7 linked regions of the Homo sapiens genome follow. The protein of the gene in region 7 interacts with the protein of the main gene of each other region in a biochemical or structural test. Each region holds a gene or a part of one and is shown on either strand. Other genes may lie near its edges. The genes, in order: PATJ, MAST2, ADD1, SDC4, DLG5, LIMK2 and PRKCA.

Region 1 (4,376 bases), on a different chromosome or scaffold from region 7:
GGGGTTTCACCATGTTGGCCAGGCTGGTCTCGAACTCCTGACCTCAAGTGATACGCCCGCCTCAGCCTCCCAAAGTGCTGTGATTACAGGCGTGAGCCACTGCGCCTGGCCATGTAAATGGATTAATACTCCAAATTATAGGTCCTCTCTATAACCTCCTCCCTTATACTCACTACAGTGGTGAAACATTTTATTTTTCAGTCTTCTCAGAACTAACTTACTGATTACACACTAAAATCTCTGCTACAATAATTTAATTATTAGCTTTTGCAGTGCCATGATCATGGTTCACTAGCCCTGACCCCCTGGGCACAAGGGTTCCTCCCACCTCAGCCTGGACTACAGGCACGCACCGGCACGCACCACCACGCTCAGCTAGTTTTTGTTTTTGTAGAGATGGGGTTTTGCCATGTTTTAAATCATTTTGATTGAAAAGAGATGCTAATAGTAGTTATCATTTGTTGAATGTGTACCATGTGCTAGGCCAAATGCTCTAAATTATCCTCTTTAGTGTTTGCAGTATACATATGAAGTAATTTTTTTTTTCTTTTTTTTCTCCTGAGATGGAGTTGCCCAGGCTGCAGTGCTGTGGCACCATCTTGGCTCACTGCAACCTCCATCTCCTGGGTTCAAGCAATTCTTCTGCCTCAGCCTCCCAAGTAGCTGGGATTCAGGTGCCCGCCACCACGCCCAGCTATTTTTTTTTTTTTTTTAAACAGAGTTTTGCTCTTGTTGCATTTTTATTAGAGACAGGGGTTTCACCATGTTGGCCAGGCTGGTCTCGAACTCCTGACCTCGTGATCCACCCGCCTCAGCCTCTGAAAGTGCTGGGATTGCAGGCGTGAGCCACCACACCCAGCCATGAAGTAATTTTTATTAACTCTTTTTTACAAACAAGGGGACTGAGGTGTAGGGAGATTTAAACAATTGGCCTACAGAGCGGGTCCTAGGGATAAACCCTGAGTCTCTGATTTCAAAGCTCATAGGCTATAGAATTTCCCATATTTCAATAATTGGCTATTGAATCAACTGGCAAAAAGTTGATTATTGAAGTACACATTTAGTTCTAATCCTGTTTTTGTATTAGTGACCAATAGGAAATGATCTAAATTCTCGTCAACAGGAGATTGGGTGAAGAAAGTATGTATTCCTACCATCGAATGTTACTTAGTTGTTACAGTGGCTGAGCAGGAACTGCCTATATCATCATGAATAACACCCCTCACCGCAGCCTGGTGTTTTTTTTTTTGGAGACAGGGTCTCACTCTGTTGCCCAGGCTATGGAGTGCAGTGGTGTGATCATGGCTCACTGCAGCCTAGACATCCTGGGCTCAACTGATCCTCCCACCTCAGTCTCCTGAGTAGCTGGGAGTACAGGTGTGTGCCACCACAGCTGGCTAATTTTTAAATTTTTTTGTCAAGATGGGGTCTTGCCATGTTGCCCAGGCTGGTCTCAAACTGGGGCTCAAGTGATCTGCCTGCCTTGGCCTCCCAAAGTGCTGGGATAACAGATGAATAAATCTTAAAAATGTAAAGTTGAGCTTAAAATAGCAAGTTGCTGAAGAATAAGTATACAGTATGATGTAATTTATATAAAGTTTAAAAACCTGCTGAACAGTAATATTGTAAACCAGGACAATGTGTGTTTTAAGAATTTCACATTTGAATTTTGTCTGTATTGATTGCTTGCACTTGGGAAGCTGCCTCATAGTTCAAAGAAGTTAGTGGAACCACTGTGAGATGAACATTCTCTAATGTAGGTTGTACTCTTAGAACCAAAGCAGACCAAGGTCCTGCCCTTGCTTTGACCCTTTGCACACCTTGCTTGGTTTGGTAGATGGCTTTTAGGCCTGGGTCTGTGGGCTTTCAGGGACAGGTCAGTTTCATTTCACTTTAGCTTCCATTAATAATAATTAGTGGATGTTGCTTTGACAATAGGGGCTGGTGGGCAGGGCTTCTGCCTGGTATCCCTTGGGGTTATTTTCTGGAGCTTTTTTTTTTTTTTTTTGAGATGGAGTTTCTCTATTTTTGCCCAGGCTGGAGTGCAATGGTGTGGTCTCGGCTCACCACAACCTCTGCCTCCCGGGTTCGGGTGATTCTCCTGGTACTATTACTACTGAGTAGCTGGGATTACAGGTGCCCGCGACCATGCCTGGCTAATATTTTTGTATTTTGAGTAGAGACGGGGGTTTCTCCATGTTTGTCAGGCTGGTCTTGAACTCCCAACCTCAGGTGTTCTGCCTGCCTCGGCCTCCCAAAGTGCTGGGATACAAGCATGAGCCACCACGCCCGACCCATTTTTCGGCGCTTGTAATGAAGTTCCAGGACGTAGTGTGGTAGAAGAGGGAGATAAGTGAATGTTGAGGGTCAGGTTGTAAATCTTCCCACCATTTAAAATTTGAAGTATTCTCATTTTTAAAGTAGTTATCTACTGAAAGGTCACTAACAGTTGAACCCCTTCCCCATGGAATTAACTCTCTCCAATGGCATCTATGTTTCCTTGCTTTGTTTTTACCTTTTTTCATAGTATCCCTTTCCCTTTTCTATTTTATTTTACTTTTTTTTTTTTTTTTGAGATGGAGTCTCACACTCTGTTGCCCAGGCTGGAGTGCAGTGGTGCGATCTCCACTCACTGCAATGTCTGCCTCATGGATTCAAGTGATTCTCCTGCCTCAGCCTCCCGAATAGCTGGGATTACAGGTGTGCACAATGACACCTGGCTAATTTTTGTATTTTTAGTGGAGACGGGGTTTCACAATGTTGGCCAGGCTGGTCTCAAACTCCTGGCCTCAAGTGATCCGTCTCCTTGGCCTCCCAAAGTGCTGGGAGTACAGGCGTGAGCCACCACGCCTGATTCCTGATATGACCATAATTTCTGGGGAGAAGCTGGGAGTGTACAGTCGGCAGTGCGGGTAAAATTGAATAGCATTTTTGAGGTGGAAACTAATCATTAGTGAATAGTATGAATGCCCAGGTCTTTTTAGTGGGGACTGGCTACATGATCAGAGACCTCTAAGTGTGAAAATTGCCCAGATTTTTTTTGTCATTGTTGCTCGTTGGAGAAAACTGCTACCAACCAGAATACAGAAGCCTACCATAGACTGGGTGCATTGTCTCTAGCCTGTAATCCCAGCACTTTGGGAGGCCAAGGCAGGCAGATCATCTGAGGACAGGAGTGTAAGACCAGCCTGACCAACATGGTAAAACCCTGCCTTTACTAAAAATACAAAAATTAGCCAGGTATGGTGGTGCATACCTGTAGTCTCAGCTACTAGGGAGGCTGAGGCAGGAGGATTGCTTGAACCCTGGAGGTGGAGGTTGCAGTGAGCCAAGACCGCACCACTGCACTCCAGCATGGGCAACAGAGTGAGACCCTGTCTCAAAAAAATAATAATAATAATAAAATAAAAAAGGCCGGGCGTGGTGGCTCATGCCTGTAATCCCAGCACTTTGGGAGGCCGAGGCGGGTGGATCACCTGAAGTTGGGAGTTTCAGACCAGTCTGATTAACATGGAAAAATCTTATCTCTACTAAAAATACAAAATTAGCCCAGCGTGGTGGGTCATACCTGTAATCCCAGCTACTCAGGAAGTTGAGGCAGGAGAATCGCCTGAACCCGGGAGGCAGAGGTTGTGGTGAGCCAAGATCTCTCCATTGTACTCCAGCCTGCGCAACAGGAGCAAAACATCATCTCAAAAAAAAAAAAAAAAGAAGCCTACCATATAGCAGTTTAACTTTGTTCCTACAAAAGTGGCCAAGTTATAGGAAGAGTATTGATATGCATTGGTTAACTTTGAATAGTTTAATGAGAAAATTAGCATGAGTTAACTGAATTATTCTGAAAAACTGACTCTTTTCATTTCTTTCTTTTTTTTTTTTTTTTTTTTAAGACGGAGTCTTGCTCTGTCACCCAGGCTGGAGTGCAATGGCACAATCTTGGCTCACTGCAACCTCTGCCTCCCAGGTTCAAGCGATTCTTCTGCCTCAGACTCCTGAGTAGCTGGGATTACAGGCATCTGTCACCACACCTGGCTAATTCTTGTATTTTCAGTAGAGGCGGGTTTTCACCACGTTGGCCAGGCTGGTCTCAAACTCCTGCCCTTGTGGTCCAAGGCCTCCCTTGTGCCCGCCTCGGCCTCCCGAAGTGCTGGGATTACAGGGGTGAGCCACCGCGCCTGGCCTTCATTTCTTTTTTAAAAAATTTATTTATGTTCATTGAAGCACTATTCACAAGTTTTAATTTCAGATTCTGAATTTAAAGTGGTGTCTTTCAACTTCAATTTCAACATTTCCTGAATGTTCACTGTCAGGAGGATTTAAACATTGCTTAGGCTTAAGCATATATCTGCAAACTGTCAGGATTGTTCTGGAATTTA
Region 2 (3,881 bases), on a different chromosome or scaffold from region 7:
ATGGGTCCTACCTGTTTGCCTAGAAACACCTGTGCACACTGAAATTGCATTGGGAGCAACTTCTCAGGGCTCTGCTGAAATCTAATGGGGTCACAAGGAGGCCACCAGCAGGGCTCTGAAGGAAAGTGTCCTTTATGTCTGGCCCAGCCCGCTCAGAGCGATACCACCACATGGACTCGGAGGATGAGGAAGAAGTGAGTGAGGATGGCTGCCTTGAGATCCGCCAGTTCTCTTCCTGCTCTCCAAGGTTCAACAAGGTGTGACTGAGGAGGCCCAGAATGGGCAGAACAGGCTGGAGGATCAGAAGAAGAGGGCCTGTCAAAGGGCACACCTGGGGCAGGCTCAGGGAGTTGGGGTTGGGGCCACCTCTAGAAAAAGAGGAGCTAAGGGTTGGGGCTACATATAGCTATATATAGGTGCTTCTAGAACCACTGCTGTCCCTGACATGAGATGCCAGGTCAGATCAGTGGAATAACTCCTTCCCCAAATATTCAGCAGGGGTGTGTGAAGGAGGGATGGAACCGACTGGTTCAAATTCCTAGGTTTCCGATGCCAAGGATGCTTTATGCCACTTGGGAGGTACGGCTGCCAGAGCCCATCCCCAGCGCATCCCCTGTGCCCACAGGTGTACAGCAGCATGGAGCGGCTCTCACTGCTCGAGGAGCGCCGGACACCACCCCCGACCAAGCGCAGCCTGAGTGAGGAGAAGGAGGACCATTCAGATGGCCTGGCAGGGCTCAAAGGCCGAGACCGGAGCTGGGTGATTGGCTCCCCTGAGATGTGAGCACCCAGAGTTCACCCAGGGTGGGCGACACAGCTATCCCTGCATTGTCACAGATCATGGGAGAGATTCCGATGCCAGGGAGGAGTGCAGGTGGCAGGGAGGGGGCATTCACAAGGGTGGCTCCTGGAGGAATGTCTGCGGAGGAAAGTTCTGTTACTATAACCCTTGTGTGCCCCTAAGGAGACCTGGCAGGAGGAGGGGGACCACCTGGGTCACTCACCCCAGGCCTTGTGTCTCATAGATTACGGAAGCGGCTGTCGGTGTCTGAGTCATCCCACACAGAGAGTGACTCAAGCCCTCCAATGACAGTGCGACGCCGCTGCTCAGGCCTCCTGGATGCGCCTCGGTTCCCGGAGGGCCCTGAGGAGGCCAGCAGCACCCTCAGGAGGCAACCACAGGAGGGTATATGGGTCCTGACACCCCCATCTGGAGAGGGGGTATCTGGGCCTGTCACTGAACACTCAGGGGAGCAGCGGCCAAAGCTGGATGAGGAAGCTGTTGGCCGGAGCAGTGGTTCCAGTCCAGGTATGGCCCAGTGGGCGGCCAAACGACCTAAGCTGGAGGATACTGCAGGGCAGGGAGGCTCAGCGGCATCGCGGGTCTCACTGCTTACTTGGGCCTACAGCTATGGAGACCCGAGGCCGTGGGACCTCACAGCTGGCTGAGGGAGCCACAGCCAAGGCCATCAGTGACCTGGCTGTGCGTAGGGCCCGCCACCGGCTGCTCTCTGGGGACTCAACAGAGAAGCGCACTGCTCGCCCTGTCAACAAAGTGATCAAGTCCGCCTCAGCCACAGCCCTCTCACTCCTCATTCCTTCGGGTGAGGCCCCTGGGGAGCTGGGATAAAACTCACAGGAAGGGCCTTGTAATCTCTAGGCCTTGGGAGGGTTCTGCACGTGGCAGGTGTGTGTGTGTGTGTTAAGCACAGATCTGACTGTGGTCTCTGAAGGTGTGTATTGGTGTCTGGGGTTGTGTATACATGTGCCAGAAAGCAGGACAGCACCATGTCACAAGTGCAGGCTTTGGGGTAGAGAGCTCACACTCAAATCCTGGCTCCATCACTAACAGGCTCTTGACCTTGAGCAAGTTGCTTAACTTCTCTAAGCCTCAAGTTTCTTATCCAAAAATGTGGATATAATAGAGGCCAGCTGATAGGTTGTGACATTTAAATATATATGACAAGCTTATATAGTCCCTGATACACACATAAATGCTAGCTGCCATTTCTCATCACCACCACCGTCTCTTGGGGTCTGGACACGGGAGAGGGCTTCACAGGTCAGGGGCTGTGGGGAAAATGGACCTAGGCTCAGGCTCTGTCTGTGACTAGAGTTGTGCTGACATCAACAGACTGGACCAGGGGCCAGGCCAAAGCCCTCTGACCCACTAAGTCCTGGCTTCTCCTTCTCCAGAACACCACACCTGCTCCCCGTTGGCCAGCCCCATGTCCCCACATTCTCAGTCGTCCAACCCATCATCCCGGGACTCTTCTCCAAGCAGGGACTTCTTGCCAGCCCTTGGCAGCATGAGGCCTCCCATCATCATCCACCGAGCTGGCAAGAAGTATGGCTTCACCCTGCGGGCCATTCGCGTCTACATGGGTGACTCCGATGTCTACACCGTGCACCATATGGTGTGGGTATGTCTGACCATCCAGACCTGCTGTCTCCCTGCTTCATCATCCTTCCAGCTTCCCCTTTGTGGAGCCCATCTGTCCCTGCTCGGGGGTCAAAGGGTGGTGGTGAAGGGGCTCACAGCTTAATGTCCAGAACCAGGCCCCATACTTCGTGTTCAGGCTCCAGTCTGAGTACTGTTCTCTTCCTGGCACAGCACGTGGAGGATGGAGGTCCGGCCAGTGAGGCAGGGCTTCGTCAAGGTGACCTCATCACCCATGTCAATGGGGAACCTGTGCATGGCCTGGTGCACACGGAGGTGGTAGAGCTGATCCTGAAGGTTAGTGCTGGGCGTGCTGCCTGCATGGTCCCTGAATGACCTCAGCCTGTGAGTCTGTGATGGCAGTTAGGGGAGTGGGTGAGTTGGGTGCACACACATCTACACCGAGTATGGATGTAGGTACACACAGGCCGGGCGCGGTGGCTCATGCCTGTAAATCCCAACACTTTAGGAGGCTGAGGCAGGTGGATCACTTGAGACCAGAAGTTTGAGACCAGCCTAGCCAACATGGTGAAACCCTGCCTCTACTAAAAATACAAAAAAAAAAAAAAAAAAATGCCTGGGTGTGGTGGCTCACGCCTGTAATCCCAGCACTTTGGGAGGCCGAGGCGGGTGGATCACCTGTGGTCAGGAGTTTGAGACCAGCCTGCCCAGCATGGCAAAACTCTACTAAAAATAACAAAAATTAGCCAAGCGTGGTGGTAGGCACTTGTAATCCCGGCTACTCGGGAGGCTGAGGAAGGAGAATTGCTTGAACCTGGAAGGCAGTTTGCAGTGAGCTGAGGTCATACCACTGCACTCCAGCTTGGGAGACACAGCAAGACTCTGTTTCCAAAAAAAAAAAAAAAAATTAGCCGAGTGTGGTAGCACATGCCTGTAATCCCAGCTACTTGGGAGGCTGAGGCAGGAGAAGTGCTTGAACCCAGGAGGCAGAGGTTGCAGTGAGCTGAGATCGCACCACTGCACTCCAGCCTGGGTGACAGAGTGAGACTCTGTCTTAAAAAAAAAAAAAAAAGATGTAGGTACACACAGAACTTGAATGTGGCACAACAGAGAGTTTTCTCCACAAGGCAGTACCCTCCCTGACTAAGGCCCAGGGATCCTTCTGAGCTGTGGGTAGGGCTGCAGAATGGGACGGATTAGCCTGTTTTCTACCTTCTTACCCCAAACCACTCTGGGGCTCCAATGGGAGCCATTTCCTCATCTGTAAAAACAATAATATAGGCCTGTGGTTCAGATGTGTTGGTGCAGGGACAAAAAGCTGGAGCTGTGGTATAGCCATGCCAGAAGGGAAGGATTGGGGGAGGGGAGGGGCAAGAATATGGCTCCAGCTTAGCCTAGGCCTCATGCTCTGCTCCCCAGAGTGGAAACAAGGTGGCCATTTCAACAACTCCCCTGGAGAACACATCCATTAAAGTGGGGC
Region 3 (4,235 bases), on a different chromosome or scaffold from region 7:
GTTAATTAAAAGGAAAGAGATGGCCTGTAAGGCAAGGAGTGGGGGCAAAAACTCCACCCAGCATCAGGAGTGGCCATCTGTGAAGGAGCACAGCGGCCCTGAGGACACAGCCTGGGGGCGCCTTCCTTGCACTTACCCGGGCACCCGCTCTGTCCATTCGTAAACGGCCTACAAAGTTACCAGCAACTGACAGGTTAGGCACCACAAGCTGTTTAGTGTTTAAAAATCAAGCCACACATCAGGGCCAGGGGAGTCAGCTGAGTGGTTAGGAGCAGCACAGGAGGCCCAGGCCCCAAACTCTCAGTGCTTTACCTTTGGGAAGCTGGAAGCACCCCCACCCTGCCAGCTGCCCCAGGCTAATTCCAGGCCACGCTTCATGAGAACCGGGAAAGGGCTATGGGCACACAGGCGCCGCTCCCCCTGAGGAGATGGGGCCCGCTCTGCTGGGCATGGTGTGGCTGATGCTAGGACGGAGGCTGCCCCAGGGCACTCGCTCTGGAGAGCTGCCATCATCTGAGTGAACATCACACTGCTTTACGAGGGTCCAATATCCGCTCCTCTGCCCACCTCCTTTGGACCAGCTTCAGCAAAGGTCCAAGGCAATCTGACCCCACACGGCAGGTGGCAGAACCCCACCCTGTCTGAACCGAGGCTGCACTTACATCTGATCCAGTGTGGCAAAACCCTCCCACCAAGCAATCCAAAGAGACCCTCAAAGGCTGGAGGTAGGAACTCCTGAGGCCCAGAGTGCTCCATGGCACCTAGGTGCGTGGAGGTACCCGCTGCCGCTGAAGGCAGCACAGCACTCAGGTGACTGAACCACTTCCAGGAAGGCCTCCAAGGGACTGGGTACAAAAAAGGGGGGCTTCTGTTTTTATTTTAAATAAACAGAAAACAAAACTTAATAAACAACAAAGAAGCAGGAGAATGAGGCAAAGCGCAGGGCACCGGTGGAGAGCGGAGGCAGCACGGTACTTACTAGGGTAACAGGTACTCTCTAGCGCATCCGTCTCCTGCTTGTGACGCAGCCACAGGGAGAAAAAAGCACAAGGAGAGAATCTATGCATTCAGTCACAGCCATCAGGTTACAGAAGAAGAAAGGCAGGGCCACGGGCTTCACGAGAGACATGGATGTACGAGACCGAGGGACAGACACCCGGGATCACACACCACAGACACACGGTGGCTGAGAGGCAGCCGGCGTGTGGCTCACACAGCGGAGGGCACCTCCGAAGGTGGCATCTGCATGACAACACGGCACGAGGAGTGTGCGAGCAATGGGCAACGTGGACACCAGCAACCATGGTGGGTTCCGACCCCCGAGGCCGGCCTTCCTACCTGGTCACAGCTCACATACAAATCTGTTTTGCCTGGAGTTACCCAGGACAGAAGCAATATAGGAGGAGAAAGGTGTCACGTCCTGGCGCTGATGCAAGCACACACTTCCGTGTTGCTGTTAACACGACTCCCGCCACATTCCGCCACAGCGCGCACGAGCCGTGCACCCTCCCACAGTGGCGGCCGCTGCCACCCAGAGCTCACCTTCCTCCAGCTTGATGGGAGTGCTGGGAGGCGGGTGGGGGACCGCAGGCTGGTCTGGAGGACTCTTTTCTTTCTGTTCTCTAGCCTCGTCCAGATTCTCTGCAGAGAAGCAAGAAGGATATGGTAGGAGCTGTGGACGCCACGCCATGAGCCTGTACCTGCCTCCATGGCAGATGGGGCAGCCCGCTCGGCCGCCCTCTGAGAAGGCAGGGCTCTCTCAACCCTTTCCCTGATCCTCTCCAAGAGAGGATAAAGGAAGCTGTGACCTGGGTGTTGACTGATGCGAATTTCAGAGAAACTTAACCAACTTCAGATACAAAACTTATTTCTATTCTTATTCCAAAGAGAGTCTGCCAGAGCCACTTCTGTGATGGACTCGAATGGTATGCCCTGGCCTGTCCCCCGCTGTCCTGTGCGAGTAGGGACCCCTCCCTCCCTGCCTTCTCCCTGCTGAGCAGGTGGCTGAGGGTCCTGAACCCACTCACCACCTTAAGGGACATCACATGAGCATTATTTTGGTTTTAATTCTGTGGTAGGGCATTTTATCCCAATAATTTAAACTTGGCAACTGTAATACGTATTTTTACTTTTTAAAGTGAAAAATGCTAATAAGAACCAGAGGAAAAAATGCAGGAACTAGGATCCTGGATATAGAAAAGGATTCCAAGTCTACTTCTCATTTCGGGGAAAATATGGACCAGCACTATTCTAACTCCTTCCATCTCTGTCTTTATTTCAGAAGTTTAAGATTAATAGCTTAGGATCAGCAGGTCCGTATTTTGAACCAGCAGCTATCATCATCCTTCTGAGCTCCCAGGGCCTCTGCTCCCACCCTAACAGCTGGCTCGCCTCCCCAAGTACCACGTTGGCAGCTACCTTCCAGAAGCCAGGTGTCCATAAAAAGGCCGCCATACCACCTAGCTGAGTGAGCATACAGCCTCAACCGGGAAAAGGTGCTGACCTCTGGCAGCCAGCCTGCATTTTACCTGTGGCACATTCTCCCCTCAGCCCATGCCAAGGGCCAGATCAGACCTCCTGTGGGTTCTCCTGCTGACAGCTCTGTGATCACAGAGCACGGCCAGAGCCTGTCCCCATCCACTCAGCTGCCATCACAGCCCTGCTGAAGGAGCCTCACACATCGGGGGGAAACTCCACATATCTTGTTTGACTTGTTTTTAAAAACAATCCAGGTTACTCAGATCCCAGGAGACTCCAAAGGGCAGACACATGTCTGTGTACATGTGCACAGAAACTAGGAGGAGGCCACATGACCCACAGCTCAAGCTGACTACCTCCAGTTCTCGCTCTAAGGCAGGTAATTACAGCAATGGCTCAGACAAAGCTTCACTGGAGGGAGACAACCAGCAGCAGGGCCTGGTGTGTGTGGCGGCCTGAATAGTAAATAGCGGTGTGACACTGAAAAACAATTCAGCAACTCAAATTTCAGTCACAACTACGTAATGCAGTGGCTGGTCTAGAACGAGACAAAAACCGGTGAAGAGGTCCTCTTAGGAGGAGTGCCTAGCTCCCAGGATGACGACGGCCCAGGAGAGCAACAGTCAGTCCCACACAACAAGGTGGCTCCAGCAAGGCTGACCCCGGAGGACTGAGAAGCACACTGAGGTTTCAGTAAAAACCTGAGTTGGAGCTTACGGCCCTGAGGATGCTGGCGGGAGCCTCCTGGCAGGGGTCCCTGTGCCCCTGGTTCTTCTTGGTGCCAGCACCAAGGCTGCTCAGAGCCTAGTGGACAAGAGAGCTGGCAGCAGGGAGCTTGGGGGAAAAGCAGCTGATGCCCAAAAGCCCTCAAGGAATAGGCTTTGGAGACCTGCTTCTCTCATTAGTTCTCAACATTTCCTTTTCAAAGCCTGACATTTGAAACCACCTGCTCCGTGAGGGTCTCAAACTTGAGCCGCTTATTTGTATTCATTTTAAGACTGCCCCATCTTTGACAAAAACAAGACCGCCTTTGTCAGCGGGCTACCAAGAGAAGTACAGGCTGCACCAGCCATTCCTGATGGGACCTGGGCACATGCCAGGGCAGTCAGCATTTTCACCCTCCGGCCTGTGACCACACCTGCACAGGAAACCCTCAAGGTTTATGGAGAAAGAGAATTTCTGTCAGAAACCCCAAGCCCTACACACAAGCACAGTAAGGACGTTCAGAGCGTCCCCCTGCACAGAGGCCGGGGCTGACTGCTGTGACCAAAGACTCAGTGAGGAAGGCAGTGCGCTTCTGTCCAAATCAGGGCTCGGCCACGCACAACCTCGTTCTCGCGAGCCGCCCTGTCTGAGCTCCCTATTCCTCTGCTCCAGCCGGGGGAAAATGACCTATCTCTCAGGGTTACTTTGAGAATGAGATGAGATGTACGCACAATAGCACTGGGCATGTGCCCGGCACAATGACTGCTCAGCAATGCTGAGTGTTAATGAATCAAACTGAGTAAAGGAGGTCTCTCCCCGGTGAAGCTTCAACAGACAGAAATACTGTGTTCGTAAAGAGACAAATGTCAGGGTGACAGGCAACATGGCCGAATAGGAACAGCTCCGATCTGCAGCTCCCAGTGAGATCAACGCAGAAGGTGGATGATTTCTGCATTTCCAACTGAGGTACCTGGCTCATCTCCCTGGGACTGGTTAGACAGTGGGTGCAGCCCACGGAGGGCGAGCCAAAGCAGGGTGGGGTGTTGCCTCAC
Region 4 (4,194 bases), on a different chromosome or scaffold from region 7:
TTCTTGTAGATGGGTTTCTTGCCCAGGTCATAGCTGCCTTCATCCTTCTTCTTCATACGGTACATGAGCAGTAGGATCAGGAAGACGGCAAAGAGGATGCCCACGATGCCACCCACAATCAGAGCTGGAGAGGAGGAGAGAGAAGAGGCGGGGGTGAGAGCTCCTCATCAGGACCTAAGGATGAACCCCTCTTTCCCCCACTGTCAGTTCTCTTACAACCAGACATCCTCACCATCACCACTGCCTGTGCCAGGCAAGCTGATGCCTTATTTAAGTTGACCTCATGACCCCAGTTATAAGAAGTGGGTCGTTGGCATTTTAAGTCACTGAAGACCACAGGGCTAGTGGTAAGGCCACTCCTTTTTCTTTTTGAGACGAAGTCTCACTCTGTTGCCCGAGCTGAGTGCAGTGGCGTGATCTCGGCTTACTGCAACCTCCACCTCCCAGGTTCAAGCAATTCTCCTGCCTCAGCCTCCTGAGTAGCTGGGATTATAGGCACGTGCCACCATGCCCGGCTAATTTTTGTATTTTTAGTAGAGATAGGGTTTCACTATGTTGGCCAGGCTGGTCTTGAACTCCTGACCTTGCCCATCTCGGCCTCCCAAAGTGCTGGGATTACAGGCGTGAGCCACCGCACTCGGCCAAGGCCACTATTTTAACCCACATCTGCCTGAATCTAAAGCCTAGGCTCTTTCCAAACACCACGCGGACTCCCCTGCAACAGTCTAGCACTAACTGAACCAGGAACAGGAGAAAACCGTAGGCTATGGAAATCCCTGTAGACATATTTATCCTGCAGTCCTTAGCACAGGGCACTCTCTAGCTCTCCCTGTGTGCATATTTACCTATATAGCCTACACTTCATAGACAGGTATGTACATTCAAAGTGCACACATGCAGAACATACTAATTCCAAACTCTTATGTTACAATTACATACAGAACTCAGTAGCTAAGGCCTGGTTTCCACTCCTACCTCTCCTACTTCCTGGCTGTGTGATTTGGGGCAAGTTTCCTTCATCTCCCTACCGCAAAATGGGAAGAGCCATACCTTTCTCATACATTTGTCCTAAGGATTAAATAAATTAATCCACTCAAAGTGCTTAGAACAATGCCTAGTGCATAGCATATTCTCAAGATTCATTAACTGTAAGGGTTTAAGGTTTATATCTGTGTCCCGAACCCCCTGAATCAGGTGTGCACAACAGGAGGTGCTTAATAAATGATACTTTCAGGCTCCGAGAGGAGAACCTGCCTAGTGTTGGGCAGAGATGGGCTTCTAACAGTGAGTGGGTCTGGCCTGTCCACTCTGCCAGGTGGCCTGAATGACTCATTCCTGTTTGCTAGGGGCAGGGATGCTTCATAGAATCCCTTCTGTGGCAGATTGAGTTCCCTAATTCGGTCTTACTCGGGCTAAGAAGATTAATTTTCCATCCCTGCACACACTACAAATCTATGTACACAATGGGGACAGAGTGGCACAGAGGAGTCAAGCAAGGTTCTTTCTTGGGTAAAATCCTATGAAAAAGCAACAAAAAAGTACCCCCAGGAGGTGCCAGAGCAAGCACATGGAATATCAGGCATCAACCCCATTCTTGTCTCTATCACCTTTCCCTCTGATGACCCCAGTTCCTCCACGAGGCCCTGGGTCTGCGCTGGGATGCCCCACAGGGTCAAGTTTCAAGCACAGGCTCAGAAGCTGACTGTGGTCCTCAGTCCAAATGCCAGGTCTGCCACTTCCAGCTTTGTGACTTCGGATAAGTTCTTTAGACTGAGTTTTGTGTTGTACGGACTCAATCAGGGGCACAGGAATCATACAGCATACAGCAAGCATTTAATAAGGCTCCTGGGTGCTGATTAAAGCTTCTGGAATGGGGGATTCCACCACACCAGCTAACAATATAACTTTTCACATGAGGCTCTTAGGCTTGTATAATTCTCAAATGGAAGATTAAAGAGATAACCTGGCTTCAGTTCTTTTCTTACTATGTGGCCTAAAGCCTGGGCCTCAGTCTCCCCATGTATAAGAAGCAGGTGCTTAGATTAATCAGTGGTTTTCAAATTTTTCTTTAGAAGCAATAGCACCTTTAGTTAATTAGAGCAAAACCTTATGCAAATCCAAAGTCTTATGCAAATCTTTTTACTTCTGAAAGAAAAGTAAAAAGAACTTTGGCTCAGATACCAGGAAGCCAGGGTCAGGGCTGAGGTGGGCCCAGTCATCAGGGGCTGTGCTCCCAGGAACCCTCTTTACAAGAGGCAGGTGAGACCTTCCATCTGTCCTGGATGAAGCCAGGCTCTGTCCCTATAGCTCAAGCCTCCTTGGAGCTGCTGGCTCTGTTGATTCCCAGGAGACAGGAGTTACCCAGCATGGGCCCAGGGTGCCCACTTGCCAGGCCGGTTCATCCAGGCTGGCCCTCGGCCATGACCTTGGGGAGTTCCCTCCATCCCTTTTGTCAACACCTGGGACAAAGCATTCCTCACCGCACATTCCAGTAAAGAACTCTCAACTGAGGCCAAATCGGAATAGCCCTTTATAGTGTGCAAAGTTATTTCATATTTTATTTTTCATGGACTCATTATATCAACCCCAGAAGGTATCACTGTACCCATTTTACAGATAAGGAAACTGAGGCTCATCAAGTTCGAAAGCTTCTCAGCCAAGGTCACAAGGCTGCCAAGTGATAGAGTAGGGGGAGGGGAAGCTAACCCAATTCGAAGGAGCCTCCAGACTTACAAGGGAAATTAACTTTTAATGATTAACTCCCAGATGCCAAACTTATACAGTGAAAGTCCTTTGCAAAATAAATGAGAAAGACTTAAGGCAGAAGAATGACTCAATGCCTATTTTCCAGAAGACTTTGATAGGTGCTTTTTCCTCTCCCTCCACCAGGCTGCACAGTCAGAGCCACCCCATAAGGAAGGTGTAGTCTTTCAATGTTCTAGGGCAACCTGAATAGGCAAAAGGAAGGGGCACCAAGGAGCCTCATGGCTGGAGGCATCCCTGCCTGCAGGTGCTCTCCCCCGCTGAGCCCCATTCCACCTTCAAGGCATCTTATAAGCAGCATGGGGACTTACCTGCCAGGACCTCCGTTCTCTCAAAGATGTTGCTGCCCTGCACAGTGCTGGACATTGACACCTTGTTGGACACATCCTCACTCTCTTCAACGGGTGAGATTCTCTTGGGGATAACCTCATTCTCCTCTAGTTTCTTGGGTTCGGTGGGGACTTGGCTCCCAGACCCTGCCCTCTCAGGGATATGGTTATCTAGAGGCACCTGGATGGGCGGAAAGGAGAAGAGACACTCAGCGTATTTTGGAAGAGACTCAGGGCAGGGGACAGGGACATTCAGCCAGGCAGAGAATCTGGTTCTGCCATATTCAGCTGAACCATATGGTCCTGGAGCAGGAATTGGCAACACTGTCTCCACAATTATGCTGCCAAAATCCTTATCCCCAACTTTTTTAGTATATCTGTCCCAAATGAAAAATGAATGCACCCAAGGGAACAGGGAAGCAGGTGCTCTCCTGCACTGCTGGCCACTGGTTATTCTAGAGCAACCACTCTGGAAGCAATTTGGCAAAACCTTAGACATCGCTTGCCCTTTAAGGTGGCAGTTTTGCCCTGGAAACTCTATTGTAAGGAGCTCTTCAGAGACTACGTGTAAAAGATGCTTGCTGCAGCTCCTCTGCCTATGAAGTAGCCATTCTTTTATTCCTTTACTGTCTTAATAAACTTGCTTTCACTTTACTCTATGGACTCACCCTGAATTCTACCTTGTGCAAGATCCAAGAACCCTCTCCCTTGGGGTCTGGATCGGGACCCCTTTCTGGTAACATCTTTCTGGAGAACCACAGAAGGGATGAGACGGAGGAGACTCCCGAATCAAAGGAAATGGACTGCAGCACTGATTGGAGGACTTTGGATATCACCTTTTGTCAGAACTAAGAGTTATGAATGGCCCTCACCATACTGGCCCTTTCTGACTGAACCCCTCTCTACCATGGATACAAGAGGCCCTAATAGTTAAGCAGGAATATCATCACCCTATTCAGCATGAAGAAGTTATAGAAGATGGATCTTTGTCCCTCTGCAACCCTTAGGATTAAGGGTTTTCTTACAAAAGGGAGGGGGAAAATGTCAGGTGTTTGAACCAGAGTGCCTACATCTTGAATAGGGGCTGGGTAAAATAAGGCTG
Region 5 (4,376 bases), on a different chromosome or scaffold from region 7:
CCTGGGGTACATTCCTGGGGGTGGGGTTTGCTGGGTCAGAGGACATGAATGTTTAACATCCAGCGAGATCTTCCCCCTTTGCTCCAAAAAGGTCATGGCTTTTGCAGTCCTCCCTGCAGTGTGTGGGGGAACTCATTGCCTCACATCTTTGCCAATGTTTTTCAGATTTTTTGGGGAGCCAGAGTGTAAAAGCTATATGGCCACTATGAAAATTTTTTAAATGTGGATATGTTATAAGGAAAAAACCACAAATTAATTTACTACTTCCAGATAATCACTCTGCAGATATTTTAAAAAGAAAACTTGACTGGCCGGGCATGGTGGCTCACGCCTGTAATCCTAGCACTTTGGGAGGCCGAGGCGGGTGGATTGCCTTAGTTCAGGGGTTCGAGACCAGCCTGGGCAACACAATGAAACCCCATCTCTACTAAAATACAAAAATATTAGCCGGGCATGGAGGCATACATCTGTAATCCCAGCTACTCGGGAGACTGAGATAGGAGAATTGCTTGAACCTGGGAGGCGGAGGTTGCAGCGAGCCGAGATCATGCCTCTGCACTTCAGCCTGAGGGACAGAGCGAGACTCCATCTCAAAAAAAAAAAAGAAAACTTGACTTTGAAATGATTATAGATTCATAGGAAGCTGCAGAGATAGTACAGGGGGGTCCTATGTACTCTTCTCCCTGCTTCCCCTCATGGTTGCACCTTGCATGAGTATAATATCAAAGCTAGCATATTGACATTGGTACTGTGTGTGTGTGTGTGTGTGTGTGTGTGTGTGTGTGTGTGTGGTTGTGTGTGGTTAAACACATGTTGTTCTGTGTAACCACCACCGTAATGAAGATACGTAGCTGTTCTATCAGCACTGAGGTCTCCCTCCCACTGCCCATTTGTAGTAACACCCCCTGCTCCCTCCCATCCCTGCCCCCTGGCAGCTGATTTTTTCTCCATCTCTGTGATGTTGTCCTTTTGAGAATGTTACAGACATGGAATCATATAGTATGTGACCTTTGGAGCTGGGCTGTTTTGATTCCGCACCATGCCTGCAAGATCCACCCAAGAGGCTGCGTGTGCTGGCTGCTTGTTACTTATCGTTGCTGAGCAGTGTTCTGCAATGTGGGTGTATCACAGTTTGGTCATTCACCGGTTGCACATATACTTCTTAAGAAGGTCTGCACATAGCTGTGAGCAGAGATTCCGGGAGCAGGGTTGAGAGGTTCTTTGTGAACACTCACAGGGCCCCACTTCGCGTGGTACTTTCTCTACAAGGCCTTTCCTATCCATGGTCTTGTTTTTAGTCCCCCGCTCTCCCGAGCCACATGCATGTATTTATCTTCCATTTCCTCTGTGGAGGCAAGGAGCTGGGAAGTTCTGAGCCAAGGTCCCACGCCACATGGCCGGGCACAGCAGTGCCAAGATGTTCCCTCCGGGTCCTCGGTGTTCTGATCCCAGAAGGACATGCTCCTCCCCTAGCCTGCTGTGAAGGCTTATGTGTTCCTCTACCTCAGAATCCCCTTAGTTGGACTCCTTGGGCCTCACCAGAAAGACCTCTATCCTTTGCCAACTCCTGACTTTGGCACCTTGCATTTGGTGACTGTCTAGCACAGGAGGTTAGGTAGGCAGAGATCCTGACTGGTAGGCCTGAGGCCGCTCTGCCTGTGGCCTGACATGCTCTCTGTCCTGCTCTAGATCAATGGCATTGCACTGGACAACAAGTCTCTGAATGAATGTGAATCTCTGCTGCGCAGCTGCCAGGACTCCCTGACCCTGTCCCTCCTGAAGGTAAGGGCTGGACCTGGCTCTGCTCTCACGGTCAGGAGTATGGGCAGAGCCCCGGCTCCACATAGCCATGCTACTCCTTGGGGTCACAGGATCCTTGAGAACAGGGTGGGCATTTACTGAGTGCAGAGGGGGCAGGAACCCTGACTGGACGCTGGTCTGAAATCAAAAAACAGCAGTCAAGGCCATGTTGGGCACAGTTGGGTACATTTGAATCTGGACCCGATAATTAGATGATCTTAGGGAATTGTTGCCAGTTTTCCTAGGTATGATGATGGCATTGGGGTTGTTATACAGGAGAATGGCTTTATTTGGGGGAGGTACAAGCTAAAGTTGTTAGAAGTGATGTGTCATGGCCGGGCATGGTTGCTCATGCCTGTAACCCCAACACTTTGGGAGGCCAAGGCAGTCGAATCACTTGAGCCCAGCAACACAGCGAGACCTTGCCTCTACAGAAAATACAAAAAGCCTGGGAGGTCGAGGTGGCAGTGAGTTGTGATTGTGCCACTGCACTCCAGCCTGGGTGACAAAGTGAGACCCTATCTCAAAAATGAAAGGAAGAAGCTGGGTGCAATGGCTCATGCCTGTAATCCCAGCACTTTGGGAGGCGGGTGGATCACCTGAGGTCGGGAGTTCGAGACCAGCCTTGACCAACATGGAGAAACCCCGTCTCTACTAAAAATACAAAAATAGCCGGATGTGATGGTGCATTCCTGTAATCCCAGCTACTCAGGAGACTGAGGCAGGAGAATCGCTTGAACCCAGGAGGCGGAGGTTGCAGTGAGCTGAGATCACGCCTTTGCACTCCAGCCTGGGCAATAAGAGCGAACCTCTGTCTCAAAAAAAAAAAAAAAAAGGAAGGGAAGTGACATGTCATGATATTTGTAACTTGCTTTCCAGTGTTCTGTAGTATCATTATAGACAAAAAGACAATTTAGTGAAATATTTTTGAATCTAGATGGTACATTTATGGACATTTATTATACTTTTCTACATATTTGAAAAGTTTAATAATAGGAAGTTAGAAAAAATAGGCCGAATTTAGAAAACATCTCTTAATGAAATGGCTGGGCCTATTTTTTCTAACTTTCTATTAAGAGATGTTTTCTAAATTAACTATTTTCAAATTATTTGACTTTTTTGGAAGCAGTTTTATGTTTACAGAAAAGTTGGGCTGATACAGAATTCTTAGCACTCTCTCAACCACCCCATCACCACCATCCCCACTCCTGTCCCCAAGTTTCCCCAATTTTGGCATTTTGCGTTAGTGTAGTTAGTACATGCGTTATAATTAGTGAGCCAATGTGGATGCATTAGTATTAACTATAATGCATAGTTTACATTAAGGTTCAGTCTTGGTGTATTTTCTGTGAGTTTTGATGCAGGTGATGACATGTACTACCATTGTAATATCATACAGAGTAGTTTCACTGCTCTAAAAATTCCCTATGCTCCCCATATTTATGCAAGCCCCTGGCAACAACTGATCCTTTTACTGCCTCCATGCTTTTGTGTTTTCCAGAATGCCATAGAGTTGGAATCACAGAGTGTATAGAATGGCTTCTTCATTTGCTAATATACACTTAAGGTTCCTGCACGTTGTTTCAGTTCTTTTTAGTGCTAATTTATATTCCGTTGTCTGGGTGTACCACAAGAGATATATTTTTAACAATGAATTTTTACTTTTATGTTTAATATTTAAAAAAAATATTCAAGACATTATGCAGGTAATTTCCTTCTTTTTGAGACAGAGTCTCATTGTGTCGCCCAGACTGGAGTGCAGTGGCGTGATCTTAGTTCACTGCAACCTCCACCTCCGGGTTCAAGCGATTCTCCTGCCTCAGCCTCCCAAGTAGCTGGGACTACAGGTGCATGCCACCGTGCCTGGCTTATTTTTGTAATTTTTGTATAGATGGGGTTTCACCATATCGGTCAGGCTGGTCTCGAACTCCTGACCTCGTGACCCGCCTGCCTCAGCCTACCAAAGCGCTGGGATTACAGGCATGAGCCACTGTGCCCGGCCCAGATAATTTCAGAAAGTGTTCAAAGTTAAGAAAACTTTGACTCTTCTTTGAGTTCAGAGTGACCAGAGCCATGAGAAAACTTATCCATTAGGGAGAAGCATATGTGTTCATGTGTGTGTGCATCTCTGTCTATCTGTCTCTTTTTTAAGGGGCAGGTGGCCCATTCCTGACCATTGCTTTACCTCTGGGGATGGTTTTCAGTGGCAGCTCCAAGTCCTGCCATCTCACTCTCTCTCTCACTCCTCTGCAATCCCTGCCTAGGTATTCCCTCAGAGCTCCTCGTGGAGTGGCCAGAACATTTTTGAAAATATCAAAGACTCTGATAAGATGCTGAGTTTTCGAGCCCATGGCCCGGAGGTCCAGGCTCATAACAAACGGAACTTGATACAGCACAATAACTCCACGCAGACAGACATCTTCTACACGGACAGGCTGGAAGACAGGAAGGAGCCAGGCCCCCCAGGAGGCAGCAGCTCCTTTCTGCATAAGCCATTCCCTGGGGGACCCTTGCAGGTCTGCCCCCAGGCCTGTCCCAGTGCCTCTGAGCGTAGCCTGAGCTCCTTCCGCTCAGAT
Region 6 (4,376 bases), on a different chromosome or scaffold from region 7:
TAGACAGTGGGGAAGGTGGAGTCTTAGAGGAGGTGAATGTCTGAAAGACAGAGCTAGCTGGAGCAAGAAGTCACTTCTCTGTTGCAGGCAGGAAGGATCCAAAGTGGCTCAAGCCAGAGATTGGGAGAGTGGGGAGGAGGGAGCAGCCTGGATCTAAGTAAAATGGGTAGAGGTGGAGGGGGTGCTGCAACGGCCAGGGTTTTCTGAAGTTGGGGACATTAGGAGAGAGCTGTGAGGGCTTTGGCCAGCCACTGTGCTAGTGATTGGTGAACCAAAGGATGGGCAGGAGATGGCAGCAGGGAAGCAGAGGAAGTCCAGGCTTCCTGTTGGTATTGGGACAAGGGAGAGGCCATAGGAGGCCCTGGCCCTGTTGTCCAGGTTGGGTTCTGAAGCTGGGTGGGCATGGCCTGGTAGGAGAGCATCTATGGCGCCCAATTCCAGATTCAGGGTCTAGTTGATTTGCTGGCCCTGTAGCCTCAGCTCATGCTTCTGTTCCAGGCCTATTTGCACTCTATGTGCATCATCCACCGGGATCTGAACTCGCACAACTGCCTCATCAAGTTGGTATGTCCCACTGCTCTGGGCCTGGCCTCCAGGGTCCTATCCTTCCTGGCTTCCTTGTCACAAAGGAGGCTGACTTGTCCCCTCTGGCTAGAGGGCAGAGGTGTTGCCTAGGAGCTCCTATCTTTCCCTTCCTGCTTCTTCCAATGCCCTTCTCTGTCCTCTGGGAGCTCCGAGACACACACAGACATAATTTCACCTTCTCTCATTAGCAACCTTTGAAATAATTTGATTAGAAGGGACTTCAGAAGTTTGTTGACTATATGTAGAAAACCCTGTCATTTTACCTGCTTTTGCCCCATAGTAGTCTTGTAAAACAGTTCATTGCTGACCCCATTTTACAGTGGTGGCACCTGAAGCCTCAGCCTGAGGCCACCGAGCTAGTAAATTTACAGGGACCAGTTTGAGACCAGCATTCCTCCCACTGCCCCTCAGCTGTGGTGGTTACAATGTTGTTTGTCTTACTGACTTGCTATCTGGCTTCCTGGGTGTCTACCGGCTGGCCCTGGCTCTGCCCTCTAGACCCACACCACGCAATCTTCATTCCTTTCCCACATGACTGCCCTGTAGCTATTCAAAGAGCTTGTCTCCCCCAAGTCTCCCCATCTACTGCCTCCACCTTGCCTTTTTCTGTCTTATCCTGGTTCTAGCCACTGCCTGAAATCATTTTAGGAATAAGACAGGACAGGGAAAAACAAAAGCAACCCCCTGTCCCACCTCTGAGTTCCACTCTCCAAGTCCCTGAGCCTCACCTCCAGGGCTCCAGTGGCTCTGCCATGAACCCACTGTGGGCTGGGAGTCTGCTGTGCACAGATACCAGACCCTCAGAAACACAAATGCCAAGTGTGTCTGTTTTTTTGTTTTGTTTTGTTTTGTTTTTTAGATGGAGTCTCATTCTGTTTCCCAGGCTGGAGTGCAGTGGTGCAATCTTGGCTTACTGCAGCCTCTACCTCCCGGGTTCTAGTGATTCTTCTGCTTCAGCCTCCCAAGTAGCTAGGACTACAGGCGTGTGCCACCACGCCCAGCTAATTTTTTTTTTTTTTTTTTTGTATTTTTAGTAGAGACGGGGTTTTGCCATGTTGGCCAGGCTGGTCTTGAACTCCTGACCTCAGGTGATTCACCCGCCTTGGCCTCCCAAAGTTCTGGGATTACAGGTGGAAGCCACCGTGCCTGGCCTGAGTGTGTCTATTTGATAGAGCTTTCTGCTCTGATTCTCCCTTGCTATACACCTTTTCTCCCCTTCTCAGTGGCTTCTCTTGCCTATGCTTCCTCCCCAGGGCCAGGTTTGAGAACATCCCCATGAAGTCCTGACCTGTCTTTTATCCTACCAGGACAAGACTGTGGTGGTGGCAGACTTTGGGCTGTCACGGCTCATAGTGGAAGAGAGGAAAAGGGCCCCCATGGAGAAGGCCACCACCAAGAAACGCACCTTGCGCAAGAACGACCGCAAGAAGCGCTACACGGTGGTGGGAAACCCCTACTGGATGGCCCCTGAGATGCTGAACGGTGAGTCCTGAAGCCCTGGAGGGGACACCCGCAGAGGGAGGACAGATGCTGCCCTTGCATCAGAGCCCTGGGAATTCCAGGGGAGGCCTGTGAAGCGTAGGACCGGATACCCAGAGCTGAGGATATTTTTCCCTTGCCAGGTGGGGCCTCACGATTTAGCTCCTGAGCTCAGGGGGCTGGGAACTGATCAGTGTCCCATCATGGGGGATAAGGTGAGTTCTGACTGTGGCATTTGTGCCTCAGGGATCGCTAAGAGCTCAGGCTATTGTCCCAGCTTTAGCCTTCTCTCTCCATGGTGAGAACTGAAGTGTGGTGCCCTCTGGTGGATAATGCTCAAACCAACCAGAGATGCTGGTTGGGATTCTTGAAATCAGGGTTGTGAGGCCTCAGAAATGGTCTGAATACAATCCATTTTGGAGTCTGAGGCCCAGAGAAGTTCAGTGAATTGCCTAGGAGCATACAGCTGCCTAATGGCAGAGGCTAGATGAACCCTAGTCTGGTTCTTTTCCACTTTAACGTGCAGTTTCATCCTAGGCAGTGTTATGTTATAAGGGCTCTCCAAGGCAGTTCACCTACAGCTGAGGAAGGACTATTTTCAGGTGGTGTCTGCGCAGGACAGCCTGTGGGGTGTCCCTACAGAACCTGTTCTAGCCCTAGTTCTTAGCTGTGGCTTAGATTGACCCTAGACCCAGTGCAGAGCAGGTAAGGGATGTAAACTTAACAGTGTGCTCTCCTGTGTTCCCCAAGGAAAGAGCTATGATGAGACGGTGGATATCTTCTCCTTTGGGATCGTTCTCTGTGAGGTGAGCTCTGGCACCAAGGCCATGCCCGAGGCAGCAGGCCTAGCAGCTCTGCCTTCCCTCGGAACTGGGGCATCTCCTCCTAGGGATGACTAGCTTGACTAAAATCAACATGGGTGTAGGGTTTTATGGTTTATAACGCATCTGCACATCTTTGCCACGTTCGTGTTTCATTGGTCTTAAGAGAAGGACTGGCAGGGTTTTTTTGTTTTAGATGGAGCCTCACTTCGTTGCCCAGGCTGGAGTGCAGTGGCACAATCTGGGCTCACTGCAACCTCTGCCTTCTGGGTTCAAGTGATTCTCCTGCCTCAGCCTCCCAAGTAGCTGGGACTACCGGCACACACCACCATGCCCGGCTAATTTTTGTATTTTTAGTAGAGACAGGGTTTCACCATGTTGGCCAGGCTGGTCTTGAACTCCGGACCTCAGGTGATCCGCCTGCCTCAGCCTCTAAAAGTGCTGGAATTAATAGGCGTGAGCTACCTCGCCCGGCCAGGTTTTTTTTTTTTTTTTTTTAGTTGAGGAAACTGAGGCTTGGAAGAGGGCAGTGGCTTGCACATGGTCGATAAGGGGCAGATGAGACTCAGAATTCCAGAAGGAAGGGCAAGAGACTGTTCATGTGGCTGTCTAGCTAGCTCTTGGGCCAAATGTAGCCCTTCTCAGTTCCCTTCAAGTAGAAGTAGCCACTCTAGGAAGTGTCAGCCCTGTGCCAGGTACCACGTGGACAGAGTGAGGAATCTTGGAAAGATTCCTACCTTTAGGAGTTTAGTCAGGTGACAGCATATCTCAGCGACTCAAACACACACACATTCAAAGCCTTCTGTAATTCCTACAAAGTTGTGAGGGGTAGAGGAGAGGAGAGACAAGGGATGGTTAGGATAATGAAGGAATGTTTTGTTTTTGTTTTTGTTTTTGAGATGGAGTTTCACTCTGTCACCCAGGCTGGAGTGCAGAGGTGCAATCTTGGCTCACTGCAGCCTCCGCCTCCCAGGTTCAAGCAATCCTCCTGCCTCAGCCTCCCAAGTAGCTGGGACTACAGGTGTGCGCCACCACGCCTGGCTAATTTTTGTATTTTCAGTAGAGACAGGGTTTCGCCATATTGGCCAGGCTGGTCTCAAATGCCTGACCTCAGGTGATCCACCCGCTTCAGCCTCCCAAAGTGCTGAGATTACAGGCATGAGCTACCGTGCCTGGCCATGAAGGAAGATTTGTTTTAAAAAATTGTTTTCTTTAATATTAATTGAACACCTCTGTTCAGAGCACTGGGCTGGTGCCAGAGGGTTTCAGACATGAATCAGATCCAGCACCTCATAGAGCCTTAACTCTGGCACACACACACAGCCACAAGGAGACACAGACAAGGCAGGGTAGGATGAGTGGAAGCTAGGAGCAGATGCTGATTTGGAACACTTGGCTTCTGCAGTGAAGCCCCTTCTTAGTCCTCTTCAGTAACCCAGCTCTCAGTGGATACAGGTCTGGATTAGTAAGATTTGGAGAGATGATTGGGGA
Region 7 (4,376 bases):
AAAGACCTTACTTTGAATTTATGACATGCTTTCCACCTCAACAGGTACTTAGGAGCAGGTTTTATTTGATGAAAAGTAGGTGGGAAAAGGGTAATGAAAGTAGCTTCGTCGCTGGGCGTGGTGGCTCATGCCTGTAATCCCAGCTACTCGGGAGGCTGAGGCAGGAGAATCACTTGAACCCAGGAGGCAGAGGTTACAGTGAGCCGAGGTCACGCCACTGCACTCTAGTCTGGGCGACAGAGCAAGACTCCATCTCAAAAAAAAAAACGAAAGTAGGTTCTCAAGCACACCTCCTAGAAGATAAAGTGTGAAAAAAGAGCTGAGAAAGCACAGCCCGTGAGACTCAACTGCCTTATAAAAACACTAGCAGCACGTGCTGGCCTCTCGCCTCGGCTGGGTTCTGTGCAAAACCCCATACATTTCACCTTCCTGACAGCCTTGGGCAGGAGGTGTGATTGTTCTCCCAGTGTTACAGATGAGCAAACTTGGTGGACCCCACTTCACAGTTAATCCAGAGCTATTCTCTGTTAGAGACCCAAGGATGCCTGGTTAGTTTGAAATGTGTGCTAGCTCAGAGTTAATTCATATTGGCCCTGTGGTGCTAGCAGCAGGTCCAAGGGCAGTAATTGGCAGCATCTTGAAAATCATTCTTAGGATCCTTAGTGAAACTCCCAGCTCTTCCTGCTTCAGAGTCACCCTGGGCTCCCGGGGACTTCAACACGCCACTACCCTTGTGGGTGGCTGACAAGGTGAAGAGAACACTCCTTCCCCACTTTTGGGGTCAGGCTACCAAGCCGTGCTGCCTAAGCGGCTGTGTGTCTCAGCGACCCCAGTGCAACAGTTCTGCCTGGAGTGGACCCTGGAGGAGAGGAACAGCCGAGACAGCAGGCCTCTCCCTGCCTCCCCAGGGCGCCATGCAAACATCCTCCAGCCTGAGACCACCCTGCAAATAAGCTCCAGTCAGTCACCCAGCCTGCCCGCTGGCCAGCTCTGTCTAGGTGTGCTAAATCCTAGCTGGGCCAGGTGCAAATCTCCCAGCCTTGCCGCCACACCTACCTCATATCGCTTGAAGCTTAATTTAGGGGCTGGGGTTGCTGGAGCAGCCCAGTAGGAAGGCAAGGATAACACAGTTTTTACTTCACTACAAATATTGCGGCAAAAAAACAGATGTGGGGCAGTAACTCACCCCGTCGCTTGGTCCAGGGGTAACTGCCTGCAGCCCCAGCCGACATCCTGGCCTTTCAACACGGAGCTGTGACTGACGGCCCTGCGTGCGTGGCTTCCGTGCTCTCAGCTCCGCTTGCTCGGTGAGGTGGACGTGAGGGGACAGGGGCTGTCCCCTTGTTGCTGCCTCATTGCCAGCCGTGCAATTCCCACCCAGGGCTTCTGTTCGGGGTGTTTCAGGGTTTACAGTTGGGTAACTCGTTGTTGTCTGCTGTGCCTGGCTTTTCAATCCAATAGGCCTGCAAGTCCTCCGAGATTCCTCCTCCTAACCAGCCCGGAGTTCCCCAGGGCCGTGCCCCTCCCCAGAGAGGGCCCTCGGAGAGCTGCTCCCGCATTGTCATGTTGACTGACCTTTCCTTCTTTTTGTCTTTTCTCCACAGTGTGGCAAAGGAGCAGAGAACTTTGACAAGTTCTTCACACGAGGACAGCCCGTCTTAACACCACCTGATCAGCTGGTTATTGCTAACATAGACCAGTCTGATTTTGAAGGGTTCTCGTATGTCAACCCCCAGTTTGTGCACCCCATCTTACAGAGTGCAGTATGAAACTCACCAGCGAGAACAAACACCTCCCCAGCCCCCAGCCCTCCCCGCAGTGGGAAGTGAATCCTTAACCCTAAAATTTTAAGGCCACGGCCTTGTGTCTGATTCCATATGGAGGCCTGAAAATTGTAGGGTTATTAGTCCAAATGTGATCAACTGTTCAGGGTCTCTCTCTTACAACCAAGAACATTATCTTAGTGGAAGATGGTACGTCATGCTCAGTGTCCAGTTTAATTCTGTAGAAGTTACGTCTGGCTCTAGGTTAACCCTTCCTAGAAAGCAAGCAGACTGTTGCCCCATTTTGGGTACAATTTGATATACTTTCCATACCCTCCATCTGTGGATTTTTCAGCATTGGAATCCCCCAACCAGAGATGTTAAAGTGAGCCTGTCCCAGGAAACATCTCCACCCAAGACGTCTTTGGAATCCAAGAACAGGAAGCCAAGAGAGTGAGCAGGGAGGGATTGGGGGTGGGGGAGGCCTCAAAATACCGACTGCGTCCATTCTCTGCCTCCATGGAAACAGCCCCTAGAATCTGAAAGGCCGGGATAAACCTAATCACTGTTCCCAAACATTGACAAATCCTAACCCAACCATGGTCCAGCAGTTACCAGTTTAAACAAAAAAACCTCAGATGAGTGTTGGGTGAATCTGTCATCTGGTACCCTCCTTGGTTGATAACTGTCTTGATACTTTTCATTCTTTGTAAGAGGCCAAATCGTCTAAGGACGTTGCTGAACAAGCGTGTGAAATCATTTCAGATCAAGGATAAGCCAGTGTGTACATATGTTCATTTTAATCTCTGGGAGATTATTTTTCCATCCAGGGTGCCATCAGTAATCATGCCACTACTCACCAGTGTTGTTCACCAACACCCACCCCCACACACACCAACATTTTGCTGCCTACCTTGTTATCCTTCTCAAGAAGCTGAAGTGTACGCCCTCTCCCCTTTTGTGCTTATTTATTTAATAGGCTGCAGTGTCGCTTATGAAAGTACGATGTACAGTAACTTAATGGAAGTGCTGACTCTAGCATCAGCCTCTACCGATTGATTTTCCTCCCTTCTCTAGCCCTGGATGTCCACTTAGGGATAAAAAGAATATGGTTTTGGTTCCCATTTCTAGTTCACGTTGAATGACAGGCCTGGAGCTGTAGAATCAGGAAACCCGGATGCCTAACAGCTCAAAGATGTTTTGTTAATAGAAGGATTTTAATACGTTTTGCAAATGCATCATGCAATGAATTTTGCATGTTTATAATAAACCTTAATAACAAGTGAATCTATATTATTGATATAATCGTATCAAGTATAAAGAGAGTATTATAATAATTTTATAAGACACAATTGTGCTCTATTTGTGCAGGTTCTTGTTTCTAATCCTCTTTTCTAATTAAGTTTTAGCTGAATCCCTTGCTTCTGTGCTTTCCCTCCCTGCACATGGGCACTGTATCAGATAGATTACTTTTTAAATGTAGATAAAATTTCAAAAATGAATGGCTAGTTTACGTGATAGATTAGGCTCTTACTACATATGTGTGTGTATATATATGTATTTGATTCTACCTGCAAACAAATTTTTATTGGTGAGGACTATTTTTGAGCTGACACTCCCTCTTAGTTTCTTCATGTCACCTTTCGTCCTGGTTCCTCCGCCACTCTTCCTCTTGGGGACAACAGGAAGTGTCTGATTCCAGTCTGCCTAGTACGTTGGTACACACGTGGCATTGCCGCAGCACCTGGGCTGACCTTTGTGTGTGCGTGTGTGTGTGTTTCCTTCTTCCCTTCAGCCTGTGACTGTTGCTGACTCCAGGGGTGGGAGGGATGGGGAGACTCCCCTCTTGCTGTGTGTACTGGACACGCAGGAAGCATGCTGTCTTGCTGCCTCTGCAACGACCTGTCGTTTGCTCCAGCATGCACAAACTTCGTGAGACCAACACAGCCGTGCCCTGCAGGCACCAGCACGTGCTTTTCAGAGGCTGCGGACTTTCTTCCAGCCATTGTGGCATTGGCCTTTCCAGTCTTGGGAGGAGCGCGCTGCTTTGGTGAGACACCCCCATGCAAGGTCCTCAGAGTAGCCGGGTTCTACCACAAACAGAAACAGAATGAAAGTAGCTGTCAGTCCTTGTAGAGAGCCGCTCTGTTTCCTCCCAGAAGCATCTCCCAGCTAAGCTCGCATTATTTTTCTCCTCTGGCTGTTTGCCTGAAGTTCACAGAACACACAACCATGAAAGGCTTTTTGAGGTGAGAGGCCCAGGTGGTCCTGGCAACCCTGAGTAGAAGGAGAGACGGGGTAGGGAACGGGCCCGGCCAGAAAAGAACCATTTCTTCTGCCATCTTTTATGCACCATAGACATCGAGACTCCAGGGGGTCCTGGCTCCCCTGTCCCTGCAGCCCTGCAGGTCAGTGCATGATCTGGGTTCGTGTCCTGACCAGGTGCTCCTCCTTTGATCCGAGGGGAAAGGGACTGGTTTATAGAAAGAGCCTAGGAGACAAAAGGGCCAGTCCCCCTGCCCAGAATGGAGCAGCAGCAGGACAGACCCCCACGAGGCCCCCCAGAGAGGAGGAAGATCCCACGGAGGAACACATGAGGTTAGGGACCCTTGT

What was found.
Region 1: the proteins of PRKCA (region 7) and PATJ interact in a test that uses a peptide from one of them, tested with the Homo sapiens proteins (one large-scale study listed by IntAct).
Region 2: the proteins of PRKCA (region 7) and MAST2 interact in a test that uses a peptide from one of them, tested with the Homo sapiens proteins (one large-scale study listed by IntAct).
Region 3: of the proteins of PRKCA (region 7) and ADD1, one has a biochemical effect on the other in vitro, tested with the Homo sapiens proteins (one study listed by BioGRID).
Region 4: the proteins of PRKCA (region 7) and SDC4 form a complex in vitro, tested with the Homo sapiens proteins (one study listed by IntAct).
Region 5: the proteins of PRKCA (region 7) and DLG5 interact in a test that uses a peptide from one of them, tested with the Homo sapiens proteins (one large-scale study listed by IntAct).
Region 6: the proteins of PRKCA (region 7) and LIMK2 interact in a test that uses a peptide from one of them, tested with the Homo sapiens proteins (one large-scale study listed by IntAct).

The regions. Positions count from the first base shown.
Region 1 is NC_000001.11:61,748,445-61,752,820, forward strand, and holds part of PATJ (inaD-like protein), read left to right. Parts: intron 1-4,376.
Region 2 is NC_000001.11:46,029,982-46,033,862, forward strand, and holds part of MAST2 (microtubule-associated serine/threonine-protein kinase 2), read left to right. Parts: intron 1-147; coding exon 148-257; intron 258-625; coding exon 626-780; intron 781-1,025; coding exon 1,026-1,309; intron 1,310-1,409; coding exon 1,410-1,604; intron 1,605-2,196; coding exon 2,197-2,423; intron 2,424-2,614; coding exon 2,615-2,737; intron 2,738-3,820; coding exon 3,821-3,881. UniProt on the Homo sapiens protein: Appears to link the dystrophin/utrophin network with microtubule filaments via the syntrophins. Phosphorylation of DMD or UTRN may modulate their affinities for associated proteins. Functions in a multi-protein complex in spermatid maturation.
Region 3 is NC_000004.12:2,923,420-2,927,654, reverse strand, and holds part of ADD1 (alpha-adducin), read right to left. Parts: intron 1,642-4,235; coding exon 1,543-1,641; intron 1,014-1,542; coding exon of another isoform or gene 980-1,013; intron 1-979. UniProt on the Homo sapiens protein: Membrane-cytoskeleton-associated protein that promotes the assembly of the spectrin-actin network. Binds to calmodulin.
Region 4 is NC_000020.11:45,327,292-45,331,485, forward strand, and holds part of SDC4 (syndecan-4 precursor), read right to left. Parts: intron 3,274-4,194; coding exon 3,075-3,273; intron 125-3,074; coding exon 1-124. UniProt on the Homo sapiens protein: Cell surface proteoglycan which regulates exosome biogenesis in concert with SDCBP and PDCD6IP.
Region 5 is NC_000010.11:77,821,790-77,826,165, reverse strand, and holds part of DLG5 (disks large homolog 5), read left to right. Parts: intron 1-1,689; coding exon 1,690-1,782; intron 1,783-4,064; coding exon 4,065-4,376. UniProt on the Homo sapiens protein: Acts as a regulator of the Hippo signaling pathway.
Region 6 is NC_000022.11:31,270,638-31,275,013, forward strand, and holds part of LIMK2 (LIM domain kinase 2), read left to right. Parts: intron 1-498; coding exon 499-564; intron 565-1,892; coding exon 1,893-2,067; intron 2,068-2,814; coding exon 2,815-2,870; intron 2,871-4,376. UniProt on the Homo sapiens protein: Serine/threonine-protein kinase that plays an essential role in the regulation of actin filament dynamics. Acts downstream of several Rho family GTPase signal transduction pathways.
Region 7 is NC_000017.11:66,802,269-66,806,644, forward strand, and holds part of PRKCA (protein kinase C alpha type), read left to right. Parts: intron 1-1,604; coding exon 1,605-1,769; 3' UTR 1,770-4,376. UniProt on the Homo sapiens protein: Calcium-activated, phospholipid- and diacylglycerol (DAG)-dependent serine/threonine-protein kinase that is involved in positive and negative regulation of cell proliferation, apoptosis, differentiation, migration and adhesion, tumorigenesis, cardiac hypertrophy, angiogenesis, platelet function and inflammation, by directly phosphorylating targets such as RAF1, BCL2, CSPG4, TNNT2/CTNT, or activating signaling cascade involving MAPK1/3 (ERK1/2) and RAP1GAP.